3 separate regions of the Homo sapiens genome follow, and regions 2 and 3 are each linked to region 1. The links come from fine-mapping of genetic effects on gene expression. A gene starts in region 1. Each other region holds a variant in brackets. All regions are shown on one strand. Distances are from middle to middle.

The links. PIP is the estimated chance that this variant, and not a neighbour inherited with it, causes the effect. A credible set is the group of variants that fine-mapping cannot tell apart.
Region 2: its variant is the best candidate, but not a certain one, in a credible set for the expression of MANEA in cerebellar hemisphere (GTEx, PIP 0.59).
Region 3: its variant is the best candidate, but not a certain one, in a credible set for the expression of MANEA in nasal epithelium (TOPMed, PIP 0.69).

The regions. Positions count from the first base shown.
Region 1 is chr6:95,576,179-95,578,945 of GRCh38, reverse strand. MANEA (mannosidase endo-alpha) reads right to left here and starts at 1,411. Exons shown (of 5, transcript NM_024641.4): 1 at 1,308-1,411. MANEA-DT (MANEA divergent transcript) reads left to right here and starts at 1,495. Exons shown (of 3, transcript NR_104136.1): 1 at 1,495-1,853. RefSeq lists enhancers at 812-911, 375-1,315 and silencers at 1,112-1,171, 1,452-1,541, 1,592-1,671.
Region 2 is chr6:95,550,667-95,553,433 of GRCh38, reverse strand. No RefSeq gene overlaps it. Among named protein-coding and RNA genes, the nearest start is that of MANEA-DT, 25 kb to the left of the region's middle. The variant C/T (reference allele first, on the strand shown) is at 1,692.
Region 3 is chr6:95,528,757-95,531,523 of GRCh38, reverse strand. No RefSeq gene overlaps it. Among named protein-coding and RNA genes, the nearest start is that of MANEA-DT, 47 kb to the left of the region's middle. The variant C/T (reference allele first, on the strand shown) is at 1,287.

The DNA.
Region 1 (2,767 bases):
ACTCAAGTTCTTGTCCATGCTATTCTGCCTTCCTTTAAGGTATTAGACAAATCAAATTTAGAGGATACACCAGTTATTTTTGTGACACAAGATGAAAGCTGCTGCTATATGGTTATGTTTTCAATTAAGGATTATGTACCTAATAAACAATGATTAACTGTTACCTACTCCATAAACTGTGCCCAAACTTCATCTAAAGACAGCTTATTCTATTTTATGATCATACATTCACTATTCGTCACACGAATAACAGCAACAGCTCTGGAAATGGTGTTTTCATTGTTGTGATTTTTTGTTTTGGGGGGTGTTTTTCTGCATTGAGCCTGAAAATCCACAAATTCACAGCACTCATGTTTTTTTCAGGTGTGATACACCTGAAATAGATGTATTGTCATGAAAGTGATTTGCAAACAACGTGATACAGTATCACCAATATCTAGGTTTTACTTTATATTTTTGTTTCAAACTACTGCCTCAATACTTTAACGTGAACAGCCTATTCCAGTCCCATTTTTCTTATTTTCAAGTTCTTAATCAACATTATCCCCCCCTTGTTGTTGTTTTATAGCACTTCCACATTTTCTCCTAACACTTATCCGTAGGGTCTTACAACAACAAAACCAAACAGTTATACCTGCCTGTACTTCAAGTTGCTTCTTTGGAAAAAGGAACAACAAAAACACTAATCCAGCACTGTTGCATCCCGACTTAGCAAAGGCTAAGAGTCTAAGATGACAGTGCCAAACACGTTAACAGGTGAACTGAAAAACCATCTCTAGCGGCCTCGCCATCGGGCGGTCTCCTCCCGATGCCCAGAGGCGACAGCTACCTTTCCGTTGCACCCAGAGCCCAGCAGGCCTCGATCCTTCTACTCTCCCGGTCGGCTCAAGGCCCAGAGGCAGTCTGGGGGCACAAGGAGAAGGTGCTGAAAAAGGCTTCCATCCGACCCGAAATTTCCACCTTGTCGGGGAGACAAGGAAAATCCGAGGCGACAGGAGGTACCGTTTCAAAGAGGAGGCGGCGACGAGGCCAGTGAGGTGGGGATAAAGCAGTGTAAAAGGCAGTAAAACTAACGCAGACTAAAACAGGCCTAAGAGTGACAGCCTAGGTTAATCGAGGGGGCTACAGGCTCGCCGCTGGGCGCCACCAGCGCCTGCCAGAGGGGCGCCGGGTCAAAGGGCGCCCGGAGGAAAGCGGCCACCAGATTGGCTGGCGGGCGAGCGCGCAGGCGCCCGCGGTGGACCTCGTGCCTGCCGCCGCTGCTGGCGCCGCCGCCTCCAAGAGGTCTGACTCCTGCAGCTACTCACCAGGGTCGGGTAATTCACTTCTTGCAAGGACTCGGCCAGAGGAGAGGTTAAGACCGCGAACATAGAGCTGACTGCCGCCGCGCCCCGAGCCCAGACAGCCCCTCCTCCCCGAAGGCGCGCGCACAGCGTTCCGGGCGCTTTCAGGGGCGGGACGGGTGGGGGCGGGGTCACGGAGCGGGCGGGGCTCGGGGTCTTCCGGAGCCTCCGGTCGCGGGTCTAAGAGGACTAGGGCGGGAGCGGCGCGGAAGAAAGAGAGGACTGCGTTTTGGGGCGTTCTGTCAGAGGGGAAGGACGTGTGGATTGGAGTCAGACTGCACTCCCGCCCTATTTCTGCAAGTAGAACTCACTGCCTTTAGAAACGGTCTTCTGAGGCTCTGTTGGGAGGCTCTAACTGTATTACAGAGGACACATTTTTGTTTGTTTTTATGTGAAACATTCAGAAGTTGCTTGCATCAAGTGCTTTACAAGTACACTGGTTTTCAAACTTTTAAAGTTGAGGAACTGTTTTGATTTTTGTAAAAATAGAACTTTACTTGGAAGCCCAAGGTAGGCAGATGGAGATGGCGTTTTTAATTTGCGAATGTATTCTATAAAATCACATCTGTACTGAAGTACTAGAAATAATTGAGGATAAGTCAGATGTGAAGAGCAAGAACTTTTGAAATAGGATTACAACTGAAGGTTTCCATCTTACATTAGCTTCAGAAAACAAGAAAATGCTATCTTTTGTTTGGTTACATAGTAACAGGAAGTCCTTATTCAAGCTAGAACTTGCTGATGTGAACAGTTTCATAAGGGCTCTCCTTAAAAAGATTTTGTACACCAATTTTAATTGGGAAATATACATATGAGTATATCTCATGTGCATATCTTAAAGAAGAATGAAAAATGCCCAGGTACCCACTACAGAGCTTAAGAAAAAAAAAATGCCAGTATTTTTGGAGTCTTCTAGAAAGAAGACTCTCTAAAAACATCTCCTTCCTTCCGTTCACCATTATGCTGAATTTTATATTACTCATTCCGTTGTATTTCTGAAAATAGTTACATATGTACGATTCCCTAAAAATACTATTTTCCTAGTTTTATATTTCATATGTGAATCATTCTTCATTTTTCCCCTTTTTTCACTAATTTAGGTTTTGAGAGGTTTTGAGATTCGTCTGTATACAAGTCCATTTCCCATAAACTAGACTGGCACATCGTTACCCTTATGCTATTGTTAGACTTTTTAAGTTTTTGCTGATAAGAGCATCTGATTGCTCTTTTAATTTGCATTTTCCCTTTTGCTAAAGCCTGTTCTTAATTTTATCTCATTTTTTATTAAATTGCTTGCTTTTGAAAATTATTTTGTAGATAATATTTATTTTTTCTAGTTTAATTCTCTCTTGTAAGTTACATGTGTTGCAAATGTCTTCTCTTAGTTTATGGACTGTCTTTCCAGTTTTTATGATGTTTCTTGA
Region 2 (2,767 bases), 26 kb after region 1:
AATCTAATCTGCAGGGTGCTAATAGAGTAATCTAATAAGGAAATCAGTAAGGAACCTCTTAGAGGGTATGCCATTTGAGGAGGATAAAGGATAAATTTGTTAACATTTGCCCACAAGAATTGAAAGCAATCCAGACAGAAGAGAATGTAAATAAAAATCTTGAAAGCAGTCCAGTGTGGATAGAGCATAAGAGAGAAAGTAGCTGGGAAAGAAGCTGAAGATGAAGATGAGTGACAGCATAAGCTTAAAGAATATGTGAGGCCAGGCATGGTGGCTCATGCCTGTGATTCCAGCAGTTTGGGAGGCCCAGGCAGGAGGATCTCTTGAGCTTAGGAGTTCAAGATCAGCCTGGGCAACATAACAAGTTCCCGTCTTTACAAAAATTTTTGTAAAAATTAGCCAGGCATGGTGGTGGCTGTGGTCCCAGCTAATTGGGAGGCTGAGGCAGGAGGATTGCTTAAGCCAAAGAGATCGAGGCAGCCGTTAGCTGTGTTTGCATCACTGCACTCCAGCCTGGGCAACAGAGTGAGAACCTGTCTAAACAAATTTTTTTTTTAAATAATAAGTGAAAGAAGTGGGAAGTCCCTTAAGGGCTTTAAACAGAGGAGTGACTGGATTTTTTGACTGCCCTATGGAGAAGGAATGAGGCAGGAGCAGGAATAAACAGGGAGAACATTGGAAGCATTTTTATCCTAGGTAAAGGATAACAGTGACTTGATGTAGGGTCTTCTAGTGAAGTTCATGAAAATTGGTCAACTATAAAATACATTTTGTGGCCAGGCATGGTGGCTCACGCCTGTAATCCTAGCACTTTGAGAGGGCTCACCTGAGGTCAGGAGTTCAAGACCAGCCTGGGCAACATGGTGAAACCCCATCTCTACAAAAATACAAAAATTAGCTGGGTGTGGCGGCGGGCGCCTGTAATCCCAGCCACGCAGGAGACTGAGGCAGAAGAATTGCTTGAACCCGGGAGGCAGAGGTTGCCGTGAGCTGAGATTGTGCCACTGCCCTCCAGCCTGGGCGACAGAGTGAGACTGTCTCAAAAAAAAAAAAAAAAATTTTGCATGAGAAACCACCTAAATCAGTGATCAGTTGGTTGTATGGTGGCTGGAACGAGAAGGACCTAGTATAACCCAGAGATAAGAATACTGACCTATCTGGAGTTTTCTTATTTTTAATATGACCATGTATGGCTGAACAACGGGTTTGAATAACCCTAGAGGAACCTTGACCTAGAGATGAGCCTAACCATAGTGGTGAAATAGAACTTGCTGCCAGGAGTTAGGAAAAGTGCATTTCAGGACATAGAGTACAGTGTTGAAAAGGAATCACAATAGATGTTAGTTTTGGAAGCTGTGGTGTCAGAGACAAAGCGTGCTGTTAGGGATGCATTTAGCAATCCTGGATGGGAGGCAGAGAGGCAGGCAAGAAGACAGACAGACAGGTGGCATCTGAAAGTCCCCCTCAGACCAGGCAACAGGCTTTGAATGTCAAGGCAAGACTACAATCCCTCTCTTTGTCGCAAGCGTGGGTAAACCCAGAGGACCTAAAGTATTGGGAAACTAACCAAGAGAGGGAATTGAATCCACAGAGGGAAAGGCAGGGGCCCAGTTCTTCAGAGCTTCATGTGAGAATGAAGGCAAGACAAATTTCAAAACAACAGCAAGACCAGTGGCACAGATGACAAAGCT[C/T]AGTGTCAGATGGTTGGACTAGAGAAAACTATCTAGGTAAATCTTGCCCTAGAACCTACAGGGCTCTGGATGGGGGTTAGGAAACCCCAGCTGTTAGAGAACAGGGAGCAGAGGATAGACAGACACCTACAAGTGAAAAATACTGAAAGAAAAAACTTCAATTAATGGGTGATACTGACACTTATTATGTCTCTTGAGGAATATTAAAAGAGTAAACCTACAGATCATTAGTCTGCATTGTTCTGCCACAGACAGTTTCTTGCCTCAATGCCCAATGTCTGTACTAACCACAACACTAACCTTTTAATCCTCTAATATTGTGGAAGGAGCTGTTTTCTAAAACGTTTAAGACCACCATATCATCCAGTTTGTCCCATCTGTGGCTCTTTCTGTTCATTTAAGAAATAAAATGATCATTGTTTTATTCCTGCCAATGACAGACATGGAAGGCAACTGGTGCTCTCTGCTGAGGCATGTGGCAGCAGCAGTAGAAGGTACTGTGGTTGAAAGAGCTGCAAAGCCCTGTATTCTGATTGCTCCCATTTCCCTCTCAGCGTATCTGAAGAGCCAGAGAATATTTCCAATCATCGAACTATGAATTATCCTTTTCAAAAGACTACCAGACAGCCAAAAAAGATAAATGTCTTCTGGACATAAGAAATTTTGATAGAGACTCTGCAGGTCCATAAACTCTCTGGCTCAAAATCCATGTGAGGGGAGGTTGTAATAGAGTCAGATGGTCTATAATTTCACCCACAATGTTTATGGAAAAATATCTTGTTTGGATATATATTTTCCTCATCAGGATAAGCAGATATAAAAGATATGTGAGTATATTGGCAAATGCTACATAAAAGAAATATAGCAGCATTTAAGCTGCAAGGACATACCTTGGAAAAGGTTTATTATCAGAAATTTAAAGCACATTTTTTAAAGCATCTGCTTGTGTCGTTAGTACAATTTTTAAAATATGGTCTCTGGTACAAAAAGAAAATACAAGATGAAATATCAACAGATTGACAAAAGAAGGATGTTAATTGAAAGGAGGAAGGTAAAAATTGAAGTGACAGATATAA
Region 3 (2,767 bases), 47 kb after region 1:
TGTGAAATAAAGATGTTTTCCAGTATTGTGTCTATTTCAGAAATGAATGAGCACTGGCCCAGAGGTTCTATTAAGGTCACAGAAGCCACTGGTGCACTAAGTCATGGAATTCCCAAACTGGCAACTTCAAGAACCTTGTTCTAAACATTCAGTCATATGAGTTATATTATATGTGTTTGAAGGGAAAAAAGATGGTAGAGAATACAGATATTTTCCTCCTATCAGAAGATTGTTATTTTTTTGAACTCTAAGCTTTATTCCAACAATCTTATGGGCATTAGGAGGAGGGAAATGGTATTTGACAGCTGTCTTATTTGTGCTAGTCAGTATATTAGATGTTTTACAATAATATGTTGTTAGATTTAGCCAAAGATTGTGTAAGATGGCTATCATTGTTTTCATTTTACAAGACAGAAGAAGGTTACCATGTACTGAAGGTCACACAGTTATTATGCGGCAGATTTGGGTCAGGGTAATTTCTGAAGCCCATACTCTCCCTAACTAAAAATATTTCCTTCTGCATGTTGCTGTATATAAGAATTGAGGAGGGTGTAAAATTATGTGATATACCTACTTTTAAGAAAATGACATACTAAAACCTAAAACTACAATCATTAATCCTAAAATTTTTTAAAAAATAAATTTAACTAAAATGCTTAATGTGACCTACCTTGCAGTTGACCTAAACTGGCTTAATGTTCCTCTCAGCTTGACTAAACTTTAGACAGGTTTCATACTGACTATAGGCCTCCATCTTCTCTTTTGTTAGAGCATTGACAAGAAAATTTGCAAGTATGTATTTTTTCTCTGCCAATTTTAAATGTATGTAAATCGCTCTCAGCCTCTTGCAATTTTACAACCTAGGAGTGCTTTTCCAGAGGGCCTGGTAACCAGCCCTTTGAAATGTAATCATTAAGGAAGAGAGTGCTTCTATCTCTCAGTATCTGTGGGAGGGAAGAAGTGGACACCAATTAGCAAACACAGATAGCCTAAGCCCAGAGAAAACCATTTGTAAACTCAAGAATAACTCAATGTACTCAACACATTTCATTGATCAACTACCCCATTAATGTCTTCCAGAACTTTTTTGCTAGGTCACTCCAGTGCTAAAAAACCCTCTAGCCCTTTATCTTGGTATGGAGCTGGATCTGGGTATCCAGAATTGCTCTGTGCTCTCTCACTTATTGCTGTCAATAATATCGGAATAAAATCAACTTTGGTCTGCTGATCTTGTCCCCTGCAACTTTTTTGCTTTAACACAGTAATGCCATTTCCAGGAAGTTATT[C/T]GAGAAATGTGCCTGTTGATGAAAACTCATATTAAATAACACTGAATTATATTTTGCATTTCTTTGTGCCTAGTAAACATGCTTGTAAACAAGTGTATTTATTTCTATTTTCTTGAAAATGGTATTTGATAGGTTTAAATAAAATACTGTTTAAGTATTATTGTACATATTTTTTCTACTACCATTTTAAGAACCTTACATTTAGTCACAGCAGCATTTTCTTTTTGGCTATTCTTATGCGTTGCTGATTTGAATGAATTGATACCAGATTGAAATGCATATGTAAATCCATCCATTGTGTATCTATGACCATTCCTTTATACTGATGTAAATTATTTGAAGTTACTAGAGTTCTAATGTGCTGAATTCAATATAAACAAAACTAAAATATTCTAACATAGACCCCAATTTTTGTATTTTAGTGAAGAGACTTTTTAGGTTCAAATAAAAATGTAATAAAGAAAGAAAAGATTTTTTGAAGACTTGTTATCACATTTTGAAAAACTCTATTTGTGAGAATACACTTGATTTTAATCAATGTTGAATTCTTTTTTCAGAGTAAGATACATTATTATAGTATTTTAATAGTATAACAATTAATTTACTTTATAAAATATAAATTAAGTTCACATTAAACTCCAAATAAAATATTACTTTCAGTAAAATTCTTTAATATCAATATTCTCAAGCCTCTCTTTTAATAAAACTACCCAGATTCTGTTAATTATCCTAAAATCACAATGTGACAAGGTATGTGTATAATTTCAAAATTGGGATTTTTTTTATTTTTATGCCTTTTTGCATATAAAAATACTTCTCTCTCCTTCATTCCTCTCTCAATCATTTCCAAGGTTACTACTATTTTGGGCTCTCACAAATGTCAAAGCTAAGTCCAGAGACTGATGATGTGCCTTTGAGATGGAGGCCATGCTCACATTAGTTGTGGTGTGAAGGCTGTTATTAGAGTATACTCTCTTCCATGAAATGTCCTACCCACCTGTTGGGACGTCTTTGAAAAGAAATTCAATAATCTCATTTCCTCCTGAATACTATCCAATAATTTCCCATCTATCTCAAAATTAAAGCCAAATACTAACCCAAGGCCCCACTTCATCTAACTCTTGACTACTTCCTCAACCTTGCATTAGTTTGCTAGGGCTACCATAAACAATTACAGCAGAGAGAGTAGCTTAAACAACATAAGCTTACCACAGGTCTACAGACTAGAAGTATGAGATCAAAATGTCAGCAGGGTTATTTTTTTCTGAAGCCTCCCCTTGGCTTGTAAATTACTGTCTTTCTCCTGTGCCTTTTTGTGTACAAATCTCCTCCTATAAGGACACCAGTCATATTGTATTATGGCCCACTCTAATGACCTTATTTTACCTTAGTTACTTTTAAACATCCTGTTGCCAAAAACAGTCACATTCTGAGAGACTAGGAGTTAGGATTTCAACATATGAATTTTGAGGGGTCACAAT